3 linked regions of the Homo sapiens genome follow. The protein of the gene in region 1 interacts with the protein of each later gene in a pairwise test. Each region holds a gene or a part of one and is shown on either strand. Other genes may lie near its edges.

Region 1 (7,099 bases):
ACAGGCGCACCCCACCCAGCCCAGCTAATTTTTTTTATTTTTTAGAGATAGGGTCTTGCTGTGTTGCCCAGGCTGGTCTCAAACTCCTGGGCTCAAGCGATCCTCCTGCCTCCACCTCCCAAAGTGCTGGGATTACAGCCATGAGCCACCACGCCTGGCCAAAATCAGATTTTTCTTTTTTCTTTTTTTTTTTTTTTTTTGAGGCAGAGTTTCGCTCTTGTTGCCCAAGCTAGAAGCATGATCTCAGCTCACCGCAACCTCTGCATCCTGGGGTCAAGCGATTCTACTGCCTCAGCCTCCCGAGTAGCTGGGAATACAGGCATGTTCCACCACGCCTGGCTAATTTTTGTATTTTTAGTAGAGACGAGGTTTCTCCATGTCGCTCAGGCTGGTCTCGAACTCCTGACCTCAGGTGATCCTCCCACCTCAGCCTCCCAAAGTGCTGGGATTACAGGCATGAGCCACCACACCCGGCCCAAAATCAGATATTCTTAACCCAGCTTTTCCAGGCCCCTGCTCGGACTAGACCCCCACTCAGACCTGGGGGAGCAGTTGTATCTTTTGACTCTCAGGGTGTGCAGGGGGAAGGTCCCCTAGTCCTCAAGCCTGCTAAGCCTGCTCTAGAGGACTGTGTCACCATGCATTCCCATGCACATACATGTATACACATGTAAATATGCACCCGCCAGGTTCATCTGGCCTGCAGCAGAGAATTCCAAACAGGCAGGATCTGGGAGAGGGTTCCAGGTCTGGGACTGTCTCCCTCCAGAGCCCCACCTACTATGAGGAAGCACCAGGAAACACAGCCAAAGCGGCTGGCTCTTAGGACCAGGGTCAGGCCTGACCCAGGACTGGACCATGGGGCAGGAAGAAAACAGGATGCAGGGCAGGAAGGCGAGGAAGGTGGAGCAGCAGGGATACAGGCCCAGGCCACAGGAAAAGGGGCTAGTTCTGCCTGTCTACTGCCCAAGCCACACCCTGTAAGAGCCTGGAACCACATATCATCCTATGGACAACTGGCCTGAATCTCCTTGGGGACTCCAAGTGGTAAGGTCAGTGATGATCATCTGGGTTCTGATCCTCACACCCAAGCTACCCAAGTCAGGTCACTTACACAGAGTCCAAGGCTTCAGCCTCTGAAGGCCTCTCCCCCCGGGCAGCCCAGGCCCCCGTCCGCCTACAGGACCCAGTGCTCTCCAGAAGGCTGGTCTGATCTCCAGCCTATCCAGGTTCTATTCCAAGCCTACTCAGCTGGGAAACAGAACAGCACCATCTCAAGTGGCCCATCATAGGGCTGTAGCCAGGGAAAGACAGAGGGACACAGTATTTTGGGGAAAAGGCCTGAGCAGGTAGGAATCTAGGCCACTCCAGAGCCTTTGGTACTCTGCTGAGCTGGCCCCACTGGCCTGGCAAAGGACCCCAGCTGCCGAGCCCACAGTGCAATCCTCCAACAAGGAGTTTCTTCCCCAGGCAGGTAAACATGGGAGCCTCCCTTCCTCCCTGCCTCCCCACTCCTCTCCCTGCAGCCCTACACTGAGGGGCTAGCCCACTTGCCACCTTCCCTGCCACCCACAGAACGAAAACCCCATCCTAAAAAAGCCAAGCTCCAGAACGACCCAGGAGCCGTAGGGAATGGAGAGAAGTGCGGTCTGGTTTCTATCAAGAGCCTTTCAGCCGGGGTTGGACTCTCCAGAGGCCCTGGGCATTTGCTGCACATTTGACCCTTCCAGGGTGGGGAAAGGGGTGAGGGAGCAAGGTCTGGCCCCTGGAGCTGTGACCAGCTGGCTGTGGGAGCTGGCTTCCTCCATCCCACTCTAACCTCCAGCAGCAAGAGAGAGCCCTGGAGAGCAGGAGGTGGGGGGGCCAGGAAAGAGGAAGATCCCAGATGGCAGCAGGTCCTGTGTCCCCTGAAAATGGGGGACATGGGGAGTCAGGGCCGAGCATCTCTGTGGCCACGGTGGCCTGATTCAAAAAGCCAGGAGAGAAGGGGTGGGCAGAGAAGCAGTCTTGCTGGGGCCAGGTGGTATAAGGAGGTGGCTATTGGGCCACTTGTGGACTCACAGGAGAGTTATGAGCATGGACTAGGCTGGAGGGTCCTTAGGCCCCTCACCAGCTGACTGAGGGCCATCCTGCGGGTCCCCATCCCTGAGCCAGAGAACAGAGCACACAGGCTAACAGCCTTTCCCTTGCAGGGCCTCGGGGAAGGCCCCTGGAGAGGTCCCCAGCTGGGAGGCTGTGCTCAGTAGGCCTGGGGACAGGGCCCCCCACCAGGCTGCCTCGCTGCCCGCCACTCTTTGCGTGTTCCCAGGAAGACCTGGGCCTTCCCTGCCCACGGGCATCGACCAGGGCCCAGCGAGGCCGCTGCCGCGCACACCAGCTGTTTCTCCGACCCGGGCGGACGCCAGCCAGGCTTTGTTTGCATTGAGTCAACAGGGACTGTGCGTCCGGGACCCGCGGGCAATGAGGGGCAGGGAGGGGAGCGGACGGTGGATGGGTGGGTGGGGGCGGCGGGAGGCTGGAGATGCGAAGCTGGGGACGCCGCGGGGCGGGACAGGGGGCGGACAGCTGTGTCGCCGGCTCGGGGAGTAGGCACACGTCAGCCTAAGGTGGCAGCAGCGGCTTCGGGGAGAGGGGTGTTCCCAGGAGAGGAGGCTGAGGGTGGGGGACTAGGGCCAGGGGATGGAGCTTCCAGGTACAGGCCGCGGGGTCCCGTTCCGGCGCTGGCCTTGGCGTTACGCTCGGGGCCCGCCCGTCCCCCCATCTCCCGACGAGCCAAGTTCGCGTACCCCCGGCCCTGCCCAGCCCCCAGCCCGGCAGGTGGATGGGGACGCCGGGGCCCCCGTGGCGCACCTGCGTCTTGGTGGTGAGCTGGATCACCGCCTTCCGGAAGTTCAGCTTGGAGTCGGTCGACCCCATGTCTCTGGAGCCCGCTCCGGCCCGGCCCCCGCCCAGACTCCAACCCGGCTCCGGCTTCAGCTCCGGCTCCAGCTCCGCGGCCCCCGCGGCTCTCGCAGGAGACAAGCGGCGCGCCCCGCCCCCGGCCCTCGTCGGCCCCGCCCCGACAGGCCCCGCCCCCGCGTGGCTCCGCCTCCTGCACCTGCAGCGCCCGCCGCCGAAGACCCGCGGAGTCGGCGGTTCCAACCCAGCGCCGCCGCACGCCGGGTGCCTTCTCAGGTCCCACCCGGAGCCTCGACGCTCTTCCTTCTGCGTCGGAGCATTGTACCCGCCTCCGCTGCTACCACGCAGTCCCCAGGGCCCAAAACCCTCCTCGCAGCTCGTCCCCCGCCCCGGTCCTCACCCTTCATCTCCGCTCCGGCTCCTGGCCCACGTCTCAGCTGGCCCTCTCCATCCCACTTTCCTCCTTCTCAGTCTGTCTTTCCCATTCATGTTTTCTGAGCATCCACTCTCTTGGTTCTCCCTTTTTCTGACCTGTCAAACCCACGTGTTCAGACAGTCCCGCAGGCCCTTGGTTATGAGGGAGGGAGGCGCTGACTCAGTTTCCATACTCCAGGAAAGCAGCTCCTCGCCTTGCTGAGCGCGAGAGTCCCTCGCGGTCCCGACCCCTCTCTAGCCACCAGATTCCCAGAGAATCCTTTGAGATTCATCCATTTCAACAAATGTGCTGAGGGTCTGGTATTTGCCAACTCTGTGTCATGGACGGACACAGCGGACATAAGTAGTACAGCCTGCTCTTTATGGCGAGCAGCTAGGGAGAGGGATAAGGAAAGAAGCGGCCAGGGTACAGCCAAATAAGCCTGTAATAGAGGCAGATTAATCATCAAAACAAGGCCGGGTGCGGTGGCTAACGCCTGTAATCCCAACACTTTGGGAGGCCGAGGCAGGCGGATCACGAGGTCAGGAGTTCGAGACCAGCCTGGCCAACATGGTGAAACCCCGTCTCTACTAAAAATACAAAAATTAGCTGGGCTTAGTGGCGCACGCCTGTAATCCCAGCTACTCTGGAGGCTGAAGTAGCAGAATTGCTTAAACCTGGGAGGCAAAGGTTGCAGTGAGCCGAGATCACGCCACTGCACTCCAGCCTGGGCGACAGAGCAAGACTCCATCTCGGGGGGGGGGGGGGAATCAAAACAAGACGACAATGACGATATCTCTAATAGCTACCTCTGAGGTATTATTTTATCCCCATTTTACACTTGGGGAAAATGAGGCTTAAAGCAATTACTTGCCCAAAGCCACACAGGTAGTAAGGAGCTCATCCAAATGAGGCTGCGCTTTTTCCACAACATCATTTTGCAAGCTATGTCTGGAAGCTTCTGGAAATCTTGGATGCTTTTTTATTTTTTATTTTTTGAGATGGAGTTTCGCTCTGTCGCCCACCCAGGCTGGAGTGCAGTGGCACAATCTCAGCTCACTGCAAACTCCACCTCCTGGGTTCAAGCAATTCTCTTGCCTCAGCCGCCCGAGTAGCTGGGTCTACAGGGGCCCGCCACCACCCCCAGCTAATTTTTTTTTGTTTTTAGTAGAGATAGAGTTTCACCATGTTGTCCAGGCTGGTCTTGAACTCCTGACCTCAAATGATCCGCCTGCCTCAGCCTCCCAAAGTGCTGGGATTACAGGTGTGAGCCACCATGCCCAGCCCTATTATTTATTTATTTATTCATTCATTCATTCATGCATGCATGCATGCATTTTGCAGACGAGGTTTCACTCTGTTGCCCATGCTGGAGTGCAGTGGTGCAATCATAGCTCATTGCAGCCTCGAATGCTGGGACTCAAGCAATCCTCCTGCCTCAGCCTGCTGAGTAGTTAGGACTACAGGTGCACACCACCATGCCCAGCTAATTTTTTTTTTCATTTTTTGTATAGACAGGATCTTGCTACATTGCCCAAGCTAATCCCCAACTCCTGGCCTCAAGGGATCCTCCCACCTCAGCCTCCCGAAGTGCTGGGATTACAGATGTAAGCCACCATGCCTGGCCCCTAGATGCTTCAAAAGGATGTGACATTCACTTAAAGAGGAATTCTACAGGTGAAAAATGAGGGGCACGCCATCTGGGAGCAAAAGTGTGGCAGGGTGGAGCGGGTGTGGAGGGAAAGAGGAGTGCGAAGGGTGTCGCCATTTCACGGAACAAACAAACTCCACAGGGCAATGATAGGGTAGCTCTAGCCTTTCTCCGGAGGTGGGTTTTCCCCGCCCTGGGCAAAATCCTTGGCAGGTTTCATGGCTTTTCTAATCATTCCAAGATAATGAATGAATAGTTCCTTTATTTGGCATTAAAAAAAATCCAGTCTATTCTACAAATCACTCAACCGCATTCCAGGCCAGAGTGACATTAAAAACTCTCAATCATAATCATTAGGGAAATGCAAATTGAAACCACAGTAAGATAACACTACATGGCTAGCACAATGACTTTCAAAAGCTGGCAACATGCTAACAGTTTATTTCTTTATTTATTTTTAGTTTTTTGAGACAGGGTCTCCCTCTGTCATTCAGACTGTGCAGTGGCATGATCACAGCTCATTGCACCCTCTACCTCCAAGGCTCAAGCAATCCTCCCACCTCAGCCTCCCAAGTAGCTGGCATTACAGGTGCACACCATGACGCCCGGCTAATTTTGTATTTTTTATACGGATGGGGTTTTGCCATGTGGCCCAGGCGGTCTCAAACTCCTGAGCTCAAGCGACCCTCCTGCCTGGGCCTCCCAAAGCATCGGGATTACAAGCAGGAGCCACCGTGCTCAGCCTTCAAAAAGAAGAAAAAATAATAAAGGCAAGTGAAGGTATGAAGAAGGAGGAGGAGAAGAAGGAGAAGAAAAGAATTGAGAACTCTTGCTAACCAGCCACTCCGGGTGAAATTTTGACCCCTTTGGTCTTGCCCATCACTCAGAGCCATTTCTGTGGCTTGCAACCAGGAACTCCCAAGTGACATGGAAATATTACTGGATTTAATTGAGTCCACCCTCACCTAGCCTCAGGGGCTCTTCTACCACTCAGATGGGCATTCTCCTCCATAGATCATCTTTTTTTTTTTTTTTTTTTTTTTTCCGAGACGGAGTCTCGTTCTGTCACCCAGCCTGGAGTGCAATGGTGCAACCTCGGCTCACTGCAACCTCCACCACCCAGGTTCAAGCAATTATCCTGCCTCGGCTTCCCAAGTGGCTGGGACTACAGGCACATGCCACCATGCCCGGCTAATTTTTTTGTATTTTTAGTAGAGACGGAGTTTCACCGTGTTAGCCAGGATGGTCTCAATCTCCTGACCTTCTGATCCACCCCCCTCAGCCTCCCAAAGTGCTGGGATTATAGGTGTGAGCCACCACACCCGGCCCTTAGATCATCTTAATGCCAGGAAATCTTACAAAGTCTCTGTGCATTCACCCCACCACGGCATGGAAAAAAACATAACATTGTCCTGAGGAACTTGACCACTAACATATCTAAGTGGAAAAATACCCATTCATCCCTGACCGTTATTTACATTCTCTAAGTTAAGCTTAACATCCTCTCTAGTTCCACCAGTAATTATGTTTTTAAAATGCTGTCAGTTGTTTTCCAGTGATGCATATTGATATCTGTAGTGACTGGGCATTTGCTTTTAAATCTACTGCAGCAAAGAAAAACAGTTCGTTCCACCATTCTGTCTACTTTTGTGTGTGTGTGAAAACTTTTATAGTAAACATTTTAAGAAATAAGTCTGGATGTATGAAGAAAGAATATTCTCGGCCGGGCGCGGTGGCTCACGCCTGTAATCCCAGCACTTTGGGAGGCCGAGGCGGGCGGATCACGAGGTCAGGAGATCAAGACCATCCTGGCTAACATGGTGAAACCCCATCTCTACTAAAAAATAAAACATAAAAAAAATTAGCTGGGCATGGTGGTGGGCGCCTGTAGTCCCAGCTACTCAGGAGGCTGAGGCAGCAGAATGGCGAGAACCCAGGAGGTGGAGCTTGCAGTGAGCTGAGATCGCACCACTGTACTCCAGCCTGGGCGACAGAGTGAGACTCTGTCTCAAAAAAAAAAAAAAAAAAAAAAAAAAAATATATATATATATATATATATATATATATATATATACACACACACACACACTTACTAAATAAAACAAAATAAAACAGAGCTTTTAAAAAATTTTTTT
Region 2 (7,633 bases), on another chromosome or scaffold:
TCAGGCCAGTGGAGAACATGGTGCCTAAGGCTCCAAGGCTGAACTAGTGATAGCAGCTGGAGCTGGGACTTGCAGGGCTTGGAGTAGGAATTCAGCCCCACCCTAAGGCAAAATCACTGGGCTCAAAGCTATCAGAAGTGGAAGCTGGGATGAAGAGAGGCCCTGGAAGGAAAGATAGGGCCTAGCCTGGCCAGGGGATTTGGAAGTTAAGCTCTTAGCATTTCCTTGGCACCCTGAGGCCCGTCTCAGCCCCTCCAGGCCCTTCTGGGATCCTCAGCAAGCTGGGGGTGGAGCTGTAGCCTGGGCCTTGTGCCAGTAGAGGGCAGGGCTGGGGCCAGGCAAATGCTGGGGGCCAGTCCCACTCAGGACTGTTCTAGAAGCAAGGGCATGTAGGTGGGGAAAGCAGGGTTGAGAGAGGGCTCCAAAAGTCACTCACAGACTCCTCACTGCTGGGAGTTTTTGCTGCCATCTTACGGGGGACCTTTTCCAGGATGGGCGTCTTGGTGAGTCCTGGTGCAGGGATGCAGAGGTGTGGACCTGGGGACCAAGAAGTGGGAAGCATCAACACAGCAGCCACATAGGCCTGTCACAAACCCTCCACCTCCCGCCAACAGACCCCCACCCCAGCCCCATGAGGAGGCCAGAGCCTGACAGCTGTGTATAGGGGTCTCATTGCAGGCGTGGCCCCAGTCTCTACTTCCACCTGTACGTGCTGACCACAGTGTTCTCTCTGGGCCCCCATATGGGAGAGAGTGGTTCCTAAAGTGAGGGTCTGCTCTCATGAGTCTGTTGTCACCCAAGGCCAGCTGACCACCCTGGGGCAATCCAAATCCACCAGGGGTTGCTGGCAGAGTGCTGCCTTTGTTCCTGCCTGGAACCCAATAGATAAGTGCTTTGCCAATCAAACTCTCTCTTTCCCACTAGCTTCTCAAGGGTAAGACCATACCTACTGTGCTCAGTGCTTCATCTCTGCATTCCGGCCACATCTCTGGTGTGGAGTAGGGTGAATTCCCTCACTCCGTTGGTGGAGGGAAAGGAATGCATGCGTGGGTGAATGGAGGCCTTTAAGGCCCTGTGCTCCAGGATGCATCTGGGCTAATTGGGAGCCTGGCCTGTGGCCAGGGCAGGGAGACTCTGGGCCTGCTGGAGGCGTTGTGACCTAGGCAGTCTCGGGTCTGCAGGCTGCCAGTGTAGATGCCATAGGAGTGCCCAGGGAGGTATGCAGGGAGGCTGGGCAGCCAGGGCCCCTAGGGGCCACCTGCCTTAGTCTGGGGAGAGGCAGATTAATTTTGAAGGTACAGTAGAAGTGAGCCAGGCCAAGAGGGCAAAGACTGTTATTATTAGGCTGTGGGTCACAATTGCTACCCTCTGAGATCCCCCTGAACCTAAGCCTCCACAGGCACATACTCATGTTTTCCACCAGCCCACCCTCTATTCTCTCAAGTCTAAAGCTGAGGTTTAGCTAATTTCCTCACCCCTCTCCCCACCCAACACCACCCCTACCCAGAGGCAAGCACCGCCCATGTATGGGCACCTGGCAGGGTTGTTGCCAGGAACAGAGAGTCCAGAAAGATGGATGAACCAGGCCCAAGGATGGAGGAGCCTGGGGCTGCCTTGCAGTGCTGGGCAGAGAATGTAAAGCCCTTGCTGGCACAGTGCAGGGACACTCTCCACAGGCTTGTTCCCACGCCTCCCAGTGCTGTGGGTTCGTAGGGGCTGCCCCCAACTGCAAAGTGAAAGAGGTGGCGTCCTGGTGAGGATTCACCGGAGCATGGCAGTCTTTTGAGAGGACAGCAAGGACAAGGTCAGGTTGGTAAAGGCCCTACAGACCATGCAGCCAATGCCTCCTTTTGCTCTGGCCCAGAGCCCCCCCCTCCCCCCCATTCGGGAGACACTAGTCAGGCTTCAGGGACCCTGAGCTTGAAGAAGGCAGAGCTGGGTGGGATGGTTTCCTGGTGGTCCCACCTACCAACTCTTCTTCCTCCATCACTCCTGGGCAGATGCCTAGAGGATGTATGTGTATATATGTCTGTTTGTGTTTTGTGCCTCCCACCCATGCTCCTGCCAGCCTGGCTTTCCAAGGGCTGCCTGCTCTGCCCCGAAGGTCCAACCCCAGTCTGGCCGGTCATTCACAGGCTGTCATCGGCTATGTCCTGGCTCAGACTTGCCACCAGCCACTGCTCCTCCTTCCCCACCCCCTGCTCCCGGGAGAAGCGGTTGCCAACCAGCAATTCAGGCGAGTCGGGTCAGACCCAAGGACCCTCCGACTAGACACAGAAAGCGCGGACCTGGTCACTTAGCAGATGCTGGGCCAAGTGAAGTGAGAACATGCGCTTGGAGTCCCGAAGCCCTGATGGTTAAGCCTCCCCAAGCCCAGGCACCGAAGCAACGCAATCCTGCAGCTTCCTAGCTGACCCCCGACGGCCGCTGCTGCGCAGGACTCAGAGGACTCCACGAGTCCTGGGGCCTCTCGGCCCCGGTGCTGTCCCTGGATAGAGCCCCCGACCGCCGCCCTTGCTCCCGGCACCGCGCTCCGCCAGCCCAGCCCAGCCCTTCTTCTCACCTGCTCTCCTCGGCTCTGCTGCCTCGGCCGACGCTGCACCGCACCACTCAGGAGTGTGGGCGGGGGTGTGAGCCGGAAGGGGTGGGGGGCGTGTCGCAGCGCGGGGGTGGGGGCTGCAGCCTGGGTTCCCGGCAGGGCCTCCGACGTCGCCCGGGTCCCCGCGGCCACCCGACTGGAGAAAGCAAGCTGGCCGCACTTCTCTCCTTCCTCTTGTACCTCCTCCCTCCTCTCTCTTCCATTTCCCCCCTCCCCCAAGCCCCCTCTTCTTCGCTGTCCTCAGCCCCATCCCTTCCCCAGCTCCCCGCCCAGGGATCTCAGCTCCCGGCCCCCAGAATCTACCCGGAGCGCTTCCCGGAGGAACTCGGGCAACAAATTTAGGCTCTAGAAGGGGGCACAGAACACTGTCCCGCCCATGCCTCCTGCCCCTAGCTCAGCATTTCCCAGTCACCGCACTTCCCCAACCCCATTATTCCAGCCTTGGGGTGCTGCTGCTGAATCCTGGAGAGGGTTGGGTCTGAGGAAGTCTCTGCTCGCTGCCCTCCTCTCCCCACCATCCAGGCCAGTCTCAAACCCTGCTACACCATCTTTCAAAATAATAATAAGAAACAATAACTGGGATCAATATTCACTGCAGGACTTCCCTTTCTGTTACCATCCCATTCCTGCTGGCACTATGGGGTGGGGAGCAGAGGTGGGGTGCTACAGACTTGGGACAATCCTGATGGCAGACCTGAGGATGCTTAAGGACTGCGGCAAGAGGCAGGCTCTCCTCTCAGACAAAAGCATCCCCCACCCCAGATAGAGACCCCCACACAGAAATAGCACAGACAGACCGACAAAGGCAGACTCCGCCCAGGCACACACAGCCCGACTCGCAGATCGAGGACAGACATGCGCACAACAGCAGAGCAGACCCTCACAGGCGCAGCTAACACACAGGCGACCCTGACCAGCCGCCTCTTCACGCTATGATGGGAAGACTCTGCCTCGATCATCAGACTACGGTCTTCGGGACATGGAGTGTTGCGCGAACGCTGGCTTGAGGCTCTCAGGGCTGGGACTAAGGATGGGAAACTTTCCTGACAGTCCTGGGCCGCTGCTCCCACTCAGGACAGGGTGGCAGTGGGGGTTGGCACCAGATCCCACACTCGCATCTCTCCCTTCAAGACTCAGACCCTCGGGACTGACAGGGATACAGCAAACACCAACCACGGCTCCCCCACTCCTCCTAGGACAAGTTCTCTAATGAACACACACATCACATCATACACACATTTCCAGAGGTCGGACTCTAAAAGATGGGCCGTTTTTCTTCCTCTGCCGGAATGCTCGGCTCCTACTCCTTTCTCAAAGCCTCAACGGGGCGGGATTCTGGTCTGAAGGGAAGCTCAGCCCAGGCACCTCAGAGCTCTGAGGCTGGTGTGGGGCGTGTCCTCAAAGGGCGGGGCCTGGCGTGCCTAGCTGGAGCGGGTCCTCAGGCTCCCCCGGGCGGCATCCCCGGGCTCTGCGCTAGGCCTGGAAAAGAGGGTCTATCCTGGGCTGAGGGGAGCATGGTGCTCCTTGGTGACCGTGGGTGACAGCCTTTGTTGGGTTTGCTTCCTTCCTATCCCCTTTTCCAGGTAGAAAAACAGCTACAGGTGCCTACGTGTTAGTTTGGCTTAGGTCTGGATTGGGACTTGGAGACCCAGTTCACCCTCCCCTCTGCTCTGGCCCTGCGCGCCTCCACGCACCCCCCACCAGTAAAGAGACTCGGCCTCCTGGGACAGACACAGTTTATTGATTTGGGCGGAGGCGCCGCGGTGCAGCGGCCCAAGTTTGGCACTGGGAGCAATGGAAGGAAGGACAGACAGATGCAGGCTCTACACAGGGGAGCCGCAGGTGGGGACTCAGGGTCCTCTTCACCTCCGCAAGGAGCGCGATGGCTTCGCTGGCCTCGGTGCTCCAAGCCCCATTGGACAAGAGAGAAAGGGATATGGAACGGGTCACAGGGAGGGGATTTGGGCAGAAGTCAAGGTTGAGGAGTGGCTGGGGTACTCGCTGGAGGAGGTGGGCCCTGAGCCAGAGCTGGCCAGTGGGCTTGCAGAGCAGCCCCCTTGACCCAAGGCGGTTGGGTGGGCTGGAGGAGGAGTGGGGATGCTAGCTGCGGGTGTAGTAGTAGTTGTAGTCGTCCTCGCACGCATCAAAAGGGCCAGGCGGGCTGCGAGGCTCGCCGTCCTGGCCAGACACAGGACGCTCACGCAGGCGCACCGCATCGTACAGACCTTGCGGTGGCTCATCAAGCAGCACATCGCGCTCGGAACGGGAGCGCGTCAGGAGGCCCACGTTGCGGAGCAGCAGCAAGACGGGAGCATAGAGCAGGTTGGCCAGTCCCATGCCAAGGCTGAGCTGCTCAAAGCCCAGCGAGTGCACAATGTGGCCTGCCACTATGGGCCCGAGCGCGTAGGCCACCGAATAGGAGATGTCGGCGATGGCGTAGACGCTGCCATAGACTGAGACATGGCGCACGTCCACCAGGAAGGCGAGCGTGGGCAGCAGTGCTGTGTCGACTAGGGCTATGCCAAAACAGAGGCCGCATAGTGAGACCACTAGCGGCGCGAAGGAGCGGCAGGCGGGCACGATGCACGAGCTGGCGCCGATCACAGCCAGCCCAAGCGCGCCGTACAGCCACTGCAGGTGTGGGTAGCGCGCCGCCAGGCGCACGGTGAGGTAGACGCCCAGCACATGAGGCACGAAGGCCGGCAGCCAGGCCATGCCCATCTCCCACTCGGAAGCCGCCATCGTATGCTTCATCCACGTGGCAATGGTGGGTTCGAGGAAGGCGAGGGGAATGTTACAGGTGGTGAGCGCGCCGGCCACCACGGCAATGTAGGGGTCTAGCATGAGGCGGTGGATGGGAGTGCCCACTGGCAGGTTGGCCCGAGCCCGTGCAGCCGCCGAGAAGGGTTTGGCCACTGCCAGCAGCAACAGCGCGTCAAAGAGCGACACGGCAGCTAGCACCAAGAAGGGCACGCGCTTGCCGGCGAACTCATAGAGGATGCCCCCGAAGGGCGGGGCCACTAGGCTTCCGAAGCTAATGAAGGCCAGCGCCACGCCCAGTGCACGACTGCGCTCCGGCTCCTCCGGGTACTTATCGGCGATCATGGCTATGCCAGACGTGTCGGCGAAGGCTGAGCCCAGGCCCTGCAGGCTGCGCGCCGCGAACAGCGTGGCGTAGTCCTCGGCGAAGGCGAACAGGACTGTAGAGGCGAACATGACGCCCAGGCCGATCAGCAGCGGCACGTCGTAGCTCATGCGGTCGATGAAGGGCCCGCTCAAGGGGTTCACTAGCAGCTGCAGGATAGCCTTGGAAGCAAACAGCACCCCGATCTTCACGTCTTCGCTCTCCGTAGGGTAGCGGGGCCGAAGGGCTGAGCCCGCTGGCCACGCAGCTGTCGGGGACGCCGAGGTGTTGGCCGTGTAGGCGCTGGCATTGGCCGGAGTGGGCAGCGGCAGGGTGGGCTCCCACACCTCGGGAGTCCGGGTGGGGCCCTCGCCGCCCCCGCGCATGTGGGCGATGTAGTCGGGCACTATGGGCACGATGACCATGTACAGCATGTTGTCCAGTAACAGCGCCACGCACACGATAACAAGCACCAGGCGCCTCTGCCGCCGGGGCTCCTGCAGCGCCGCGCCCACAGCCTCCGACAGCTTGGTGGCCGCCGCCCGGGCCTGGCCCGCAGGTTCCGCGGATTCCATGCCCCCACCCCGATGCTCTTCCGAGGACGCCTCCGCCAGGGCCGAGCGCTGGCGTCCCGCAGTGCAGAGGCGAGGGCACGGGACTTCGGGGAGGCTGTCCTGGCCGAGCAGACTCCCCTGTGCCTCAGGTGGCCGCGGAGCTCATGGCCCAGCGTCCCGGGAAAGGAAAGGACTCCGTCCGGCGAGGCGTTGCAGCTACTCTTAGCCGATCCCGGGACCCGCGGCTGCTGGGCTCAGGGGCGGCCGGGAAGTCGGGCGCGCCGAGGGGCCGGGGCCGGAGACTGGGCGCACTTCGCCCGGGGCGCGCCCAGAGCAGCCCCCGCCGCGCTAAGAGGCCGCCCGCGCTGGCCGAGGGACATGCTGTTGCCGCCCGCCCGCTTGCCCGCCCGTTAGCCCCGCCGCTGCGCTCCCCTCCCCTCGCGTCGGCTCTTGCCTCCTCCGCCGCCTCCTCTTTTTTTTTCCCTTCCACTCGGGGCTGTGACGCGGCGAGTCCCAGCCCCCGAGTGGTGCCCGGGCCACTTACGTCGCTCATGCTAATGCGACGTCGGCGGGGCGGGGGCCGGGGGCGGGGCGTGGCCGGGCAGGGGTCCGCTCTCCAGATGCTCCAGGGCTGGAGGCCCAGGAAGGGCTCTCGGTGTGGAAGTCTTGAACCAGCCCCTGGGATGGGCGTTCCGCGCCGGTAGCTGGCCCTCTGCCCCCCGCCCCCTGCCTGCCCCCCGCCCGCGGTTCTAGGACTCGCGGGGTCAGCGCCCGCTCTTCTCCTCTTGGGGAAGGGGGCGCGGCAGCCGGTTCCTCGAGGCCCCTTGGGAGAGGCGGGAGCCAGAGGCTTGCGATCTCCGCTTCAGCCTGGACCTCGGCGCACAGCGAGCAGGAAGCCCCCGAGGTGAGCCGCCGCTGCGTCCATCTGTTCTCGCAGCTGGATTGTGGAGCCGCGTCCGGAGGAGCGCTGGACACGGACACCCCCAACCCTTTCTCCGACTCCGCCCCCTGGCCCCTTGCACACACACTCCCGCCAGGAGGGGAGGGGAAGGCTCAGCAACTGCCTGGCCTGGCTCTGACCCACCGGCCCCTCCGCAGAATTTCTCGGCCGCGAATCGCGGCCGGGAGCTTGTGGGGACTGAGGGCAGAAGTTGCCGCGCCCCAGTCGGGGTCGCGAATATTAGCCTGGCCGCTGCCGCCCTCCCGCACTGCCTGGCCACATTCCCCTTGCCTGGAATCCCCCTTTCTCCTTTAGCGGTCTGGTCCCCCAGCTCCGCCTCTTCTCTCCCCGCCGCCGCACCCCCTCCCCACTCTAACTCCTCCCAGGCACTCTTCGCACCCGACCAAGCCCTCCCT
Region 3 (7,022 bases), on another chromosome or scaffold:
TTTAGGATTGATGTGTACCACCTACAGGGGATATGTATTGAGTATTTGAAAGACTTCGGAAATAACTGTGATTGTTCCTTTACAAATGGATTTTAACTGCATGCTTTCATATGGCCTTGTTACTAGGTAATCAAATGTTCTGTGTTACTTCCCTGTATATTCTGGATTCAGATCTTTCTGAGTTTTATTTGTGGCTAGTATCTCCTAGTTGGTGATTATTTTTCACTCTTTGTGGTGTTTTGGTGAGCAGACATTATAAATTTTAATGCAGTTGAATTTATCATTTCTCATTATTTTTACAGACTCTTCCCTATCCTCATCTTAAAGATTTTCTTCCTAATCTAAAAGTTTTAAAGTTTTGTCTTTAATCCACTTTAATTTGATTTCTCTTCTATGGTAGGGACCAAATTTTATTTTTTCCACATAGGTTACTAATTGTCCCCGCACTGTTTATTGGAGCCTTTCCCCGCACTGATATGCAGTACCATATCTGACACATCAATTCTCTATATATGTTTGAGTCTGTTTCTGATGTCTCTAATCTAAATTAGTGTCACATTGTCATCTTTACTGTAGAAATGCTGTAGCTCTATAATAACTTAATATTTGTAGAGAAAGTGCCTAACTTTGTTTTCCCGCTTGGATCTTTTTTTTTTTTTTTTTTTTTTTTCAATTTGGCTGTTTGCCCTTTTAAAATATTTAGAATCAGCTTGTCAAATCTGATGAAGAATCCTTTTGTGGTTTATATTTGAATTGCGCTGAATGTGTGTGTTAGTTTAGGGGATAATTTATCATCTTATTCGTGAATATGATATATACCTCTGTTTAGCTCTTCTTCTGTATCTTTACATAAAACTTTGTATTTTCTTTGTGAAAAGATAATACATATTTTATAGGATTATTTCTTTGTACCATTTTTGTTGTTCTATTATAAATGGAATCCTTTTAAAATTTTAATTGTGACCAGCTTTGAAGAAGCATCTCTTATGACTTTTTCAGCTGATAAATTTTCCTGAAGATTATAGCAAAAGTACCAAATTTTGAGGGTATTAAAAAGCAGAAATTAATTGGGGTGTATCTTATCACATCTGTTTTTAGTAAGTGTGAAAAGGTCAATATTGTCCATTTATTTGTCTTTTCACTTAGAGATTGTGTGAGAGAACTAATATTCATAGACCCTGTTGACTCAGGTAGTTTTCAAAGTGTGTATGTGTTTAAGTGGTGTGTGTGACTTTTTTCTGAGACAGTGGTGAGAAAATTGACATTTTTACTCTTTAGAATAGTTCTTAGAAATGTATATTTAATATACTAGTTGAGGTCATTGTGTTCTATCAGGAAAAAAAATTGTTCTCTCTGCTTCCTTTTGTGTAATGTTCTTCTGTTTTTCTTTTTTTCACTTGACCAAATATCTAGCTTATTCTGTGTTTACTTCAAGTCGCATTTCCTTTCATGCCTTCCCAGACCATTTAATCCATAGTTATTTCCTCTTGTTAATTTCTAAATTCTTACAGATTCTACTTATAAACATAGAATGGCCTCCATATTGTATCATTAAATGCAGAGACCAAGGGCACAGTACAAAGGGTCCTATTTTAAAGATCTGTGTGTGTGTGTGTGTGTGTGTCTGTGTGTGTAAAAATTTTTGGAGGAATGCACTAAAAAATTTTTTTTATGATAGTTAACTTTTAAAACTGGGTCTGAAAGGTCTAAGATGGAAGGAAGAGTTTTACTTCATGTGCTTTTATACTATTTGAAAATTTTGCTATCTGCATGTATTACTATTTATTTTCAGGGTTATAGTGTTTATTAAGTATGTAACAGTAGGAGTTGGCTCAAAATTATCTGGAAAAATAAGAAGTAAACAAGATTGCCAAAATGTTGATGATAAGTGAAGCTAGATAATAGACCCATGGTGATTCATAACATTATTCTCTCCTTTTATGTATATTAGAATTTTTCACCATAAAATTTTAAAAATTAAACATTGATATATTCTAGCTATAATTTAGGTCTGAAATGGGCTTTGCAATTCGAAACACTTGTAAATGTATCAGGACACTAAAGATTCCTATTTTTTTATTGCTATATAATTCACCTACCACAAAATCATCCTTTAAAAAAGTATGTAATTTGGTGGTTTTTATTATATTCACAAGATTGTGCAGCCATCAGCAGTATCAAATTCCATATCACTTCCCAAAAAACCCACACTGATTATCAGTCATTGCCCCTCCTTCCCTATTCCCAGCCCCTGGCAACCATTATTGTGACATGTGTAACTACTTTATTTCTCTTTGTGGTTGAATAATATTCCACTCTATGGATTTACTACATTTTGTTTATCCGTTCATTAGTTGATGAATATTTGGGTTGTTTGTACTTTTTTGACTATGTATTCATTACTTGTTAAAGTTTAAATATGTAAGAAAAGACCTATGGTTTTTGTTTGTGTTTTAGGTGGGGGGAAATGATTCTATTTTTATTCTCAAAACCGTTTTTGAAAAACTTTACTGCTAATAAATTATGAGGTTTTGGAACATACACTGTACAGTTTCATTAAAAGTAAAATTCTTGTGTCATTTAAGTAGAAATTGTTTGTATTTTAGATAACATTTGGTCAGCCAGGCTTGGACATTCAGAGCAGAAGTATGGAATACGTACAGCGGCAAATATCCAAGGAATGTGGAAGCCTAAAGTCCCAAAATAGGGTAAGTAATGTTAGTTTATCTTGTGATATGGAATTTAACTAATTAATAGATAGGTAAAGTTTTCCAGTCTTTCTAATTCTCCATATAGTTGAATTGTACTAGAAAATTTTTCATTGTATAAATTTGCTGCCTATGTGCTTAAACGCTGTTAGTTAAAAACTCTGCAAACTTCTCATTTGAGTCTAAAAGATTGCCAGAGCTGCATTTATTAGATAGGACCAAAAGGAATTATATATTGTTAATTAAATAAACTGTATCTGTCACCCCACCTTTAGCTCAGACCTAGAATTTTCTTAGCCCTAATTCCATGTATCTAGGAAATAGAAGTTTGCCCCAAACTGAGTCAGATGCTTACTTGTAGTAGACTAGTCACTGTGTCCAGGGACTGGAGCTAAAGATACAAATTTGTCTACTTAGAAGCCTGCATTTATGGATGATGTAAGGGGTCAAAAGACTTAATTTTGTTCTTTGGCCTCAAAGAACCAACCTTCCCAGAAGGGTTGTGGAAGTAGGGGTATTTTACGTCATTGTTCAGAGACTTTTTGTGTACCCAAGCTACACACATGTGTGTCTTTGTATTAATTTGCTAGGACTCCCACAACAAAATATTACAGACTGGGTAGCTTCAACAACAGAAATTTATTTTCTCACAATTCTTAGAAGTTCAAGATCAAGGTTGTTGGTAGGTTTGGTTTCTTCTGAGGCCTTTCTTCTTGGCTTGCAGGTAGCTGCCCTCACATGGTCTTTCCTCACTTTGCCCTCACATGCTCTTTCCTCTGCCCGTACATCCCTGGTGTCTTTCTCTGTGTGTCCAAATTTCCTCATAAAGAAAACAGTCAGATTGGATTAAAGTCTCTCTTAAGGGCCACATTTTAACTTAGTCACCTCTTAAAAGGCTCTATATCCAAATACAGTCGCATTACTGGAGGTTAGGGCTTCAGCATATGAATTTGAAGAGGACATAAGTCAGACCATAACATTTTGTCCTTTGTTCCCAAAATCATGCCCTTCTCACTTGCAAAATACATTCATCCTTATCCTAACAGCCCCAAAGACATAACCCATTCCAGCATCAACTCTTAAGTCCCAAATCTCATCTAAATAACGTCTTTCAATCAAGTGTGGGTAAGTGGCTCATGCAATAGTAGAGGTACAGATCCAAAACAGGGTAGGCTGTCTGGAGACCCAAGAAATAGTTGTAGTCTGAGTCCAAAGGCACCCTGCTGGCAGAATTTCTTCTTGCTCAGGGGGAGCTCAGTCTTAGTTCTAGTAAAGCCTTCAACTGATTTTATGAGGTCCGCCTATACCACAGAAGGTACTGTGCTTTCCTCATAGTCCACCAACTGAAATGTTGATCTCATCCCAAAAACATATCATAGAAATGTCCAGAATAATATTTCAACAAATATCTGGACACTGGCCCCACCAAGGTGACACGTAAAATTAACCATCATAGCCCTCATTGCAGTTTTTATCTGTTTCTTTTTTAGGTCCCTTTGAAATCAATCAGACATGTCAGCTTTCAAGATGAGGATGAGATTGTCAGAATAAACCCTCGAGATATCTTAATACGTCGCTATGCAGACTACAGACATCCTGACATGTGGAAAAATGACTTGGAAAGAGATGATGCTGATTCCAGTATTCAGTTTTCTAAACCAGACAGTAAAAAATCAGACTATCTGTACTCTTGTGGGGATGAGACTAAGTTAAGTTCACCCAAAGACTCTGTGGTATTTAAGACGCAGCCTTCCTCATTAAAAATTAAGAAGTCAAAACGAAGAAAAGAGGATGGTGAACGTTCTCGCTGCGTATACTGCCAGGAAAGGTTTAATCATGAAGAAAATGTTAGGGGAAAATGTCAGGATGCTCCAGACCCTATTAAAAGATGCATATATCAAGTTAGTTGCATGCTCTGTGCAGAGAGCATGTTGTATCATTGTATGTCAGACTCAGAGGGAGATTTTTCTGATCCCTGTTCGTGTGACACTAGCGACGACAAGTTCTGCTTGCGATGGTTAGCCCTGGTAGCTTTGTCTTTCATTGTACCATGTATGTGCTGCTACGTCCCTTTGAGAATGTGCCATCGCTGTGGTGAGGCATGTGGTTGCTGTGGTGGGAAACATAAAGCTGCTGGATGAAATGGTCCAGTGCCAAAATGAGCTTAAAATCTTTGTTTCCAGGAATTAGCTAACTTGGATTTGTGGAAGCTTTTGGCAAGCAATATGGAATCTTGCCTGGTATCATTGAGCCCACACATGGAGGAAGCAGAACTCATCAGTTCTTGGCGTTTCACGCCATGCCTAACTTTTCCCTTGAGTGCATGGCATGTTTTGTTACAGGTTGTAGAGTATTTGCAGAAGGAAACCATTTCTGGTTATTTGGCTATAAAAAGTCAGCATAAAATATGATCCAACTAAAAGGGATTAATTTTTGGCATTTTTGTATATTTATGCATTAGGTGATGGGACTTTTAAAGGTTTGAATTTATTAGGACACGAACTAAAAATAAAAGTGCACTAGGGGACAGTTGATTTCAATCTAAGAAAAGTTAACACTTGGGAATTACAAGAAGTAAAACAAGTGCAACTAAATCATTTATTAGTTGTTTTTTGAAAGCAGTTTTATGTATAAATAACAAATGTTTATATTTAACTAAATGTAAGGTACGAATTATTACATATTAAACTTTTCTTCCCCTTCCTAGTTCTGAAGTAGATATATATATATATATATCTACTGTCACATTCCATATATTTTGAATATTTAACTCATCTAGTTAATAATGTTTTTATTCCATGCGAATGATTTGATATTTTCATCCTTATTTCTCTTTGGCTACAATTTATATTGAGTTATATCTGTACATTCTGGTAATCTAAAATCCTTAAAAATACTCTAATAGCCTTGAGTGACCAACTTTTTTTTTAAAGCACAGATGTAATTGTCTAATGTTCTGATGGGAACGTAACACTTATTTTTATATAAAAAGAGACTGAGTAAACAAACATTATAGAAAAAAAGTGAAGTTTTTTAGTTGTTTTTTGTGGTATTCAACCAGCAAGTTGTTTTCTTTCAGAGTTTCCTCCTTCAAAAAGTTATATTGCATTTACAAATGTTTTACAAGGCAGAAAGTTTGACTGGATAGTTAGTGTAAAAGCTTCATGTTGAGATCTTCACGTATCATTCTGCTAAACCAGAATATGTTCAGCTGTGTTACTAATTTTTCAGCTTAATCCTCAGTGCTTATTATTTACATAACAATAACTTTTTATCAGTTACATTTTATTTTTATTTAAACTGGCCAAAAGCAAAATTATTTTATGTTAAAATGTGTGCTAAACTATCCCAGGAAAGTATTTAATCCAACATTGTAAATGAAGTATCTTGTACATATAAATTTATTTCTTTTGCAGAGCATTATATTACTGGATGTTTAATTTACAAAATAGTTGGGTAAATGTTCCAACAAACTTTAAAGTACCTTGAAGTCAAATTGTCTGTTTTTGTTTTGTTGTTGTTGTTGTTGTTTTCTTAAGTGTTACATTAAAACTCTAACCAAGGAAAGGGTTCTTTAAGAACATTCCCTTAGAGGGATAAAGTTGAGAAGTGTGCCTTTTTTTTAATGGCTTGAAGTTTCAGAGGTGATAAAAATTAAAATCACACTACTATTTGAAGCTCATTTTCTATGCAGGTTTTTAAACGTCATTTATGTATCATTCTTTTTATATATCACACTTAAGCTTGTGTTAGCTTTTTTCTTTTGCCCCAGATCAAACTGAACAATGTATATAACACTATCTGTCTGTAAAATACTTTTTTTAAGAAAGCATTTATATTTATATGACAGCTTGAACTGACAACATTGTGTATATAGATCATCTTGAAGTATTATTTCACATTGAAAAGAAGAAAATATATTGATAACTATAGATGTTATGAAGAAGAGGGTATTTCTAGTTTTGTACTAAAAATCAATTGGATGAACTAAATCCAAAACATGACACTGTAGGCAGCAGTTTTAAGTCTTATTTTTACTGTTTATATATTTGAATGCTGCTACAACAGATGATCTTCATCCCTGAAGTTTTCAGCTAAACTTGGTTTCCTAGAATAGACTGTTAACTTTCAAAATTTTTATTGGTGAAATGGAAATACTGTTTTTCCTTGTGAATGAATTTTCATATTTGTAAGTGCTAAGTTTATAATTCAGGTTTGATCAAGGTGTGAATAACTGAAGAAAATAACTTGCTGGCTATATAGGAAAATGCTGTGGAAATGAACTGTGTATATACTTCTGGGAGGAACAAATTT

Evidence for each region. The genes of interacting proteins can lie anywhere in the genome.
Region 2: the proteins of HID1 (region 1) and CHAT interact in binary tests that used the Homo sapiens proteins (3 or more experiments, as listed by UniProt).
Region 3: the proteins of HID1 (region 1) and SPRED1 interact in binary tests that used the Homo sapiens proteins (3 or more experiments, as listed by UniProt).

What each region holds. Positions count from the first base shown.
Region 1 is NC_000017.11:74,969,741-74,976,839, forward strand, and holds the start of HID1 (protein HID1), read right to left. Parts: upstream 3,020-7,099; 5' UTR 2,917-3,019; coding exon 2,851-2,916; intron 1,053-2,850; exon of another isoform or gene 949-1,052; intron 1-948. UniProt on the Homo sapiens protein: May play an important role in the development of cancers in a broad range of tissues.
Region 2 is NC_000010.11:49,609,406-49,617,038, reverse strand, and holds the start of CHAT (choline O-acetyltransferase), read right to left. Parts: upstream 3,003-7,633; 5' UTR 2,850-3,002; coding exon 2,564-2,849; intron 1,017-2,563; exon of another isoform or gene 987-1,016; coding exon of another isoform or gene 947-986; intron 538-946; coding exon 437-537; intron 1-436. Other genes in the region: SLC18A3 (vesicular acetylcholine transporter), read right to left, coding at 4,700-6,298. UniProt on the Homo sapiens protein: Catalyzes the reversible synthesis of acetylcholine (ACh) from acetyl CoA and choline at cholinergic synapses.
Region 3 is NC_000015.10:38,346,816-38,353,837, forward strand, and holds part of SPRED1 (sprouty-related, EVH1 domain-containing protein 1), read left to right. Parts: intron 1-2,606; coding exon 2,607-2,708; intron 2,709-4,198; coding exon 4,199-4,849; 3' UTR 4,850-7,022. UniProt on the Homo sapiens protein: Tyrosine kinase substrate that inhibits growth-factor-mediated activation of MAP kinase. Negatively regulates hematopoiesis of bone marrow.